2 linked regions of the Homo sapiens genome follow. The protein of the gene in region 1 purifies or fractionates together with the protein of each later gene. This does not show direct contact. Each region holds a gene or a part of one and is shown on either strand. Other genes may lie near its edges.

What was found.
Region 2: the proteins of CALCR (region 1) and HSF2 purify together in Homo sapiens (affinity purification with a luminescence readout; one large-scale study listed by IntAct). This does not show direct contact.

Annotation. Positions count from the first base shown.
Region 1 is NC_000007.14:93,568,061-93,571,888, reverse strand, and holds part of CALCR (calcitonin receptor isoform 2 precursor), read left to right. Parts: intron 1-3,828. UniProt on the Homo sapiens protein: G protein-coupled receptor activated by ligand peptides amylin (IAPP), calcitonin (CT/CALCA) and calcitonin gene-related peptide type 1 (CGRP1/CALCA).
Region 2 is NC_000006.12:122,419,934-122,423,761, reverse strand, and holds part of HSF2 (heat shock factor protein 2), read right to left. Parts: intron 3,628-3,828; coding exon 3,540-3,627; coding exon of another isoform or gene 3,528-3,539; exon of another isoform or gene 3,352-3,527; intron 1,613-3,351; coding exon 1,464-1,612; intron 1,045-1,463; coding exon 805-1,044; intron 182-804; coding exon 76-181; intron 1-75. UniProt on the Homo sapiens protein: DNA-binding protein that specifically binds heat shock promoter elements (HSE) and activates transcription. In higher eukaryotes, HSF is unable to bind to the HSE unless the cells are heat shocked.

The sequences.
Region 1 (3,828 bases):
CACTAACTACCATATACCCGGTGCCAATGATAATCTAGTACTTTTACAAAAAATATGTTTTAAGCTAAGAGTAGCCTTGTGAGTTACAAGCTATTATCATTATTTTATGTATGAGGAAATTGAGGACCCATTAGATTAATGAACTCGCTCAAAGCCACGAACCAAGTAAATTAAAAATATATTTGAACCCAGGTCTTTTTAAGTTCAATGATGGATTACATTATATATTTATTTACATATTTGTATTTTTTACAACTTAACAGCAGCATTTATTTAGAGATAATATAAGTTAAGAGTACAAATTCTGGCACAGCTCTGCTTGAGTTTGACTTCTGATTCCATAACTTTCTATCTGTGTGATTTGGGCACATAATGTAACTTCTCGGTGCCTTAATTTTCTTTGTAGAATAAGAATTAAATGAGTTAATATTTGTAAAGCATTTGGGTAGGTGTCTGGTACATGGTAAGTTCTATGTGTTATATTTTTTTAAATGTCATTCATTCAAAAAAATTTTTATTGTTATATGCCAAGCATTGCACTAAGCCTGAAGATACATAGACAAATAAGTCATATCCCTATCCTCAAGGATGTCGTGTCTAGTAGAGAATGACAAGAACATAAGTAATCATCCCAATCAGGTATAGATCTTTTACTTAATTAAAAGCATCATTTCTTGACAACTGTGTGCTTTTCCATGTGAATGTGATCTTCCAGAGCTTCATATAATGAGTGTTATAAAACCAAGTGATAAGATTTTGTGTTTTCATAATGATACTAACTTGTTTTCAATTCTAGTATCAAAACACAGAAAATCATATTAACATATGTTTCTGGCTTCCCTTATACATTTAGAAAACCAGCAATATAGAGAGGTTTGAGATCTTTAAAATTTTATATTAAAAGTGAATCATGAAGATAGAACATTGGAGAATAATCAGTAGAAAAAATGTTATCAGTATCTGTTCCTCAATACTTCTAACAGTAATTTTCTTGAATTGGCTTTTCAAAAACAGTTTTGTCTGATTAGAATGTAGTTTTGGTTTTGTTTTTAAGAAAAAAAATGTTTCAGGGAAGAAAGAGTGGATCACAGGATACAGAAAAATGTCCCTAATACAAGTTGGCAAGGCAACATATACCTCATTGAAGCTGGCAGCACTTCCTAGTCTATGCCTGCAGCTCTGCACAGCTGCCTGGTACCTCCAGGGTACCAGTGGATACCTGAGGTATAAGATTCTGTCTTTGTTAAAAATTAAAGTCCCTGTTTATTTTTTAAAAATAGCATATAAATTGGTATTCTTTGTACCAGAATAACACAGATAATCTAAACTCAAGGAGTTATTTCTCAAAGAAGTAAAGTACCTGGTTCAGTGAAATATTTAACTATTCCATTTCACTAAAATTTATGTTTAACTATTTCAGTAAAATTTATGTCTTTCCTCTCTCTTATCAAGTCTCAGACTACCTCCAGTTTTTCCCATGGATGCTACATTTTTCTTCCTCTAAGTATCGCTGCCACACCTCTAGTTTAAGTTTTTATTATCATTAATAAAATATTTATTCTCCTAATATTCAGTCACATTAAGTTTCTATGTGCTAACTTCAGTGTTATAGAACATGGTTAGACTTGTTTTCTAATCTTTAATTTCTCCCCCTCTGTTCATAATTATTCAGTAATGGTCCAAGGACTGCAAGACTTAGAACCCCTCTTCAGCCTGGTATTTAAGATGTTTCATGGTATAATCCTAGTTTAGCTTTCCTATCCAAGTCAGGTAGAAAACCTCAACAGCTCCTTAATTTTAGTTCTGAAGCTGTAGTTACACCAGAAAAATTGACTCCTGATTTGGAGTCCATTCTTCACTTTTAACCCTGTGCCCTTGCATGTCAACCTCAGTCTATATTCTTCTGCCTCAAAATTGAAGTGTGTGTGTGTGTGTGTGTGTGTGTGTGTGTGTCCCTTTACATCAATGGTTCCATTGTAGAGCTGCTTTTCTTTGGTTTTCATGTCTCGCTGCAACCCTAGTCTCACTCCCTGCCCTTTATTTGTCCGGTGGTTCAGAATTCAACATTTCAAATCTTACCTTCCTTCATCCTTAAAATGTATTAATCATTCTCCCATAACACATCTAACAAATTTCCATCCTATAGCTTTGCTCATATTTTAAAACTGAATAAATATGTACTAAGTGCCTATTATGTCCTAGTCAGGGGATATTGTGACAGATTACAGATCCTGATTTCATGGGGAATGGAAAAGACAGACAAACCAACAAACATTATACAGCCCTGTGGTATGTATTCCAATAGAGAAATGCCATGAGGGTGCCTAGCCGGACAACCAGCCCGGACATCAGGGAAATTTTCTAGGGAGGTTACCCTAAAGGGCATATGATTCAGCATTGAAATGACAGAACAGAATGAGCTAGATAAAGAGGGGAAGAAATGAAGTGTTACAGGCAGGACACCAGATTGTGGCTTGAAACAACATGGTGACTTGGGGAAACCACAGGTATTTTTGTTGCCCCAGCAGGGTTAAAGGACACAGATTATACACAAAGAAGCTTGCATGCCTACCATACTAAAGGGTTTGCATTTTATCAGGAAGATAGTGGGGGGTCCTTGAAGGAGTTAATATAGGTTACTGAAATAATCAGATTTGCCATTTTGGTAGATCTCTCTGGTGGAAAATAAGAGGCATATTAGATTGAAAAAAAGGATGGATACAGATTAACTGGACACACGCAGCCTTACTGCAGTGACAGAGGGAAGAATCAATTAGGGCCTCCTTGTTGGAGACAGAAAAGAAAAAAAAACGAAATTATTTTAAAGGTAGATTTTGTAGGATTTGGTGAACGATAGAAATTAGAGGTGAGATGAAAGAGAAAAATTGTATGATGAATTCCAGGCCTCTTTCATGGATAATAAGAGAGATGTGATGTCATTCACCAAGTCGGGACAAGGAGTATTTTGGACAGGCAAGATAAATAGTTGAATTTGGAGGAAAAAAAAATAATGTCTTTGGCTCATCCATGTGATGATGTTAAGTAGAAGTGCATATAGAAATTAGTGCCTCAAGAGAGAATTTGGTACTAGAAATATAAATTTAAGAGACATAGTGAATCTATTTCAGCTGACAGCATAGGAATAAAGCATATTATCTCTGGAGAAGTAAAAACAGGGAATAAAGAAAGAAAACATAGAGGAAAAAATTAAAGGTAGAAAATTAAAAGAAAAGTAAAACATCTTAGAATCCTGGAAAGCACCAATATTTAAAGGGAAATGGAAAACAATCCTGCAAAAAAAAGACAGAGATGAAAGACTACAGGAGAGAGACAGAGAGAGAGAGAGAGAGAGAGAGAGAGAGAGAGAGAGAGAGAGAGAAAGTAATTTTATGGAAACCAGGGAGGAGAAAGCGAGCACTCATGCGGGATGTTACCAGTAGATCAAGTGGGATAAGGATTGAGAGCTCGCAATTGCATTTAATTGAGAGCAATTTTAGTCGTGAGTTGGGTGTGGGTTGAGAAATAAATGTGAAATGAGGAAATGGAGACACTGATTGTACACAATAATTTCAATCAGTTTGAGACGCCTGCCTTACTTTATTTTCCCTTTTTGAAAGGTGCAGTCTCCTAAAGCTTAACTTACATGCTGCTTCCTTCTTTTTAGCCTTTCCTGGACAGCGTTTAATCCCCCCAACAAAGATGTCATATCACATCATGATTGATATCCCTTGTTTTAGAGTTTCCAGAGGTCCCATGCATGTGAGCTGTGTGCGTTTGCATGTGTATGAATATATAGGTATATATTAAATACCCATGTAGTATGTAAAG
Region 2 (3,828 bases), on another chromosome or scaffold:
TGACGTACTGGTTTTTAAATAATATACATAAACACACAAACTACCAGTATAGCAAAGATTACCCAAAGTACCTACATCAACCAGGAGATCTGGGTCTATGCTAAATTGTCTTCCTGATAGCATGGCCTGGAAGTCCTCTAAACTGCAGTCAATACTGTCAAGATAATCCAACAGCTCAACCCTAAGGAAAAAAAAATTTTTTTAATCAAATATTAGATATCCTTGTTTTTATGTTTAAAAATCACCATTACAACTTGGCTAGGCAAGATATTTCTAGCAGCTGCTGCATCCTTACCGGTTCTTAATCTTAAGAGATCTTATTCTAGAGTAGGAATTCTTGAAAATCTGGTTAACTGAAAATTCATAGCCTTTACAGAAAACTTTAGTATTTACAGAAAAACACACCCTGCAGAACAGTCTGATTTACCTTTTTCCTCTATACTATATAAAATGTTTAATCTCATTACTGATTATTACTATTAAGTTTTCTTTGTTATAAGTACCTTACTAGAAATTACATTATTCTGTAGTTTGGATACACAAATATATATAATCACAAACACTGTATGTACACTCAAAGGAAGTATATCATCAAAGGAATCTGAGAAACTACCAGGAAAATACCAAGACTATTCTTGGGATGATTAAATCCCATTCATTACAGAACTCAACACTGACCAAAACAGAGAAAGGTGGACTATGTGGGTTCATCATCTGAAAGGAAGATTACTCAAAGAGAAACAGAACATGTGAAGTGAACAAAGAAAGCAAATAATTTTAGACAACATCTAGATAAGCACTCACTTTCCCAAAAGATTGATGTTATCATTCAAAATGGAATCCATCATGGTCACTGGATCTTCTGAGGTCAGACTGGATGAGCCATTTAGCTGGACAGCACTAGACATGAGAGGGCTGCTGCCATCACTGCCTGAACTTAGGGATTCTCTGGCTGGTTCATTCTGCTCTCCACTCTGAATGACAGGTGCATACTCATCTTCATTGTCATCTTCAACGATGACAATATCAGGGTACTGGCTACAGCTAAATCAGCAATAAAAGAAGGAACCTATTACATTTTCAAATTTAATAAGTTCATACTATCCATTCATTCTAAATGGAAACTCTCTCCCCATACCACATACTGAAAGGCTTAAATTTCTTGAGCGAGCAGCTTAATCACAATATTGGTACTTCATAGTATAGAAGACCATAAAGATTGAATGAGAAGTGCTTAACTCCAAAATAAAAATTAAAAATCAATTAGTTTTCAGTATACCTCCTTTGAGAGGAAGAGGAGGTGAGGTTTTATCTGGTTGAATAATTTAGCTTAATTATCAAGTTTAATAATCCAAATGTGAGAAAGATTATTATTTTTCAAAGAACAAAGTAGTTTTGAATTTTACTCTGTAATAAGAAAAGTAATCAATATTTTCATACATTTTATCTCACAAACTCCTTACTTGGAGGGATCAGATATAACATCCTCATTAGTTTCTGGAATAACTGGGATATTTTCTTCATCTGCATTATCATCAGTAACATCATAAATAATGATGTCATCTGAAATCCTCTCCCTTGGCTTTAAACCTTCAGTCCTACTGTGTGGAACCTAAAAATTCAGAGAGAAAAATATATCTAAAAATCAAAATCATTGACTACCAAACAAGATATCATCTACAAAATAACTAGGCAACTACTATTTACTGAATCTCGGGGTATGCAAAACAGGTGTGTTCTCTGCTCTTACGGAACTTACATAATAATTGGTACTAGCAGCACCAATTCACAGAGGTATGAGGTATATTAACTGCATTCTACACTTTACTACTTCTTTTACTGTAAGGGACCCTGAAGATGACACCCCTAAAAATGTTTCTATGGAAAGATCTTCAAATTTTAAAGTATTTTTTATGCCTAAAGAGTAAAAAAGTCTTAGGACTTCACTAGAAACTTCAAGCACGACCAGACAGCCACCATGCTGATAGGGATATTGTTTCAGCTCAAGATGCTCTGTTTTGAAATGTGTTTTATTCTTATTCATTAAATACCTTCACTAAGAGAAAAAAACGCACTTCACCTCTCTCAGTTACATGTTAGCTTGGCTTTTTAGCAATGATTTTTTTTTAAACTTAAGCTACAGATATATTCAGGCTACAGCTGTATTAATCAAACTAAGTTCAATCCTGTAAAGCAAACTAAAGTCATTATTAAAATGCAAAAAACTATAAATTCCAATACTAGATAATAAAGAGGCAAAGGATGTGAAGTACTTTAAAATATATAAACCCAGTTAAAAATATAAAAATCTTCATCCACTTACATGAGCCTTCAATCCTAAAAACAAAATAGGTATGCTTGATTATTTTCTAACAGTAGAGGGAAAAGAAATCAGATGTGAGGTTAAGTTTGATTGTCCAAGAACAAAAATCTTATTACTTTAATAATAAATCTAAAGAACTATTTTGAATTCTGAAGTTTGAAAGTAGTAACAAAAAGATAATAAAAAAGATCTGGACTTTGGACTGGACTAATTTGCCACTGGATAGAAATCTGACAAATTATCCAGAAAGCCTGTGACAAAATGAAGGTAAAAATTTAAATTGCTGGAGTAAAAAGCATTCTAGTTGGTGAACATTAATAAAAAAAAGTTGAAAATAGAATAACCAATGTAAGAATATATAATCACATTAAATTATAATAATTACATTTTCAAAATATTCAATTATTATATAATATTGAAATGAGTAAGCCAGGTGCAGTGGCTCATGCCTGTAATCCCAAAACTTTGGGAGGCTGAGGCAGGCAGATGGCTTGAGTCTGGGAGTTCGAGACCAGCAAAGGTGACATGATGAAAATCCATCACTACAAAATATACAAAAATTATCCAAGTGTGGTGGCACACACCTATAGTCCCAGCTACTCAGGAGACTGAGGCAGGAGAATTGCCTGGGCCCAGGAGGTGGAGGCTGCAGTGAGCCAAGATCATACCACTGCACTCCAGGCTGGGTGACAGAGTGAAATCCCATCTCAAAAAAAAAAAAAAAAAAAAAAAAAAAAAGAAATGAATAAACTAAATCGCTATGTTTAATAAATCTCAAAAGCAACATCAAGTTAAAAAAAAGCCACACTATAAAATGATATGCACAAAATGATATTATTTATATGAAGTTTAGATATATGCAAAATAATACCAAGTACTGCTCCTGGATTCACATATACAAAATGGCCATGAGAATGATAGATACTAATTCAAGATAGTGATTACCTCTAGGGTAAGCGAGGAAGAGTAAAGAGGGGAGACAAGAGACGGGGAGAGAGAAAAACTTAGAAACAGGCAACTGGAACAACTAGATTTGTGATGATTTATTTCTTACAATAATCTAAAGCAAATAATAAAAAATGTCACAATTTAACAAAGCTGTGGGATGAACACTTGAATTGTTATTCACCACACTTCTTTGAATGCATGAAACACTGCCATAATAAAATTTAGTCTGAGACAATAAATATAAAATAGACCCTAACTAAAAAATTACTTTATGATGATGATTATCAGTTGGTTCTTTGACTATGTGCTGAAACAGGTTCTTCTTTTGGGCTCCATTAGTGTTTAGAAGTAGAGGCCTGAAAACCAGAAGAATATGCAGTTCAGTGAAGCAAACATACAATGAATTTAAACTCCCTCTATTAACTTACCCAAACACACACACATGCACACTCACTTAATAATGAATAAAAAATTTCAGTAACAATAAATAAACTTAAAAATGATTACATCTTAGGAACAGAAACTGCTGGATGAGAATATCTAGGACTTTCAGTTCT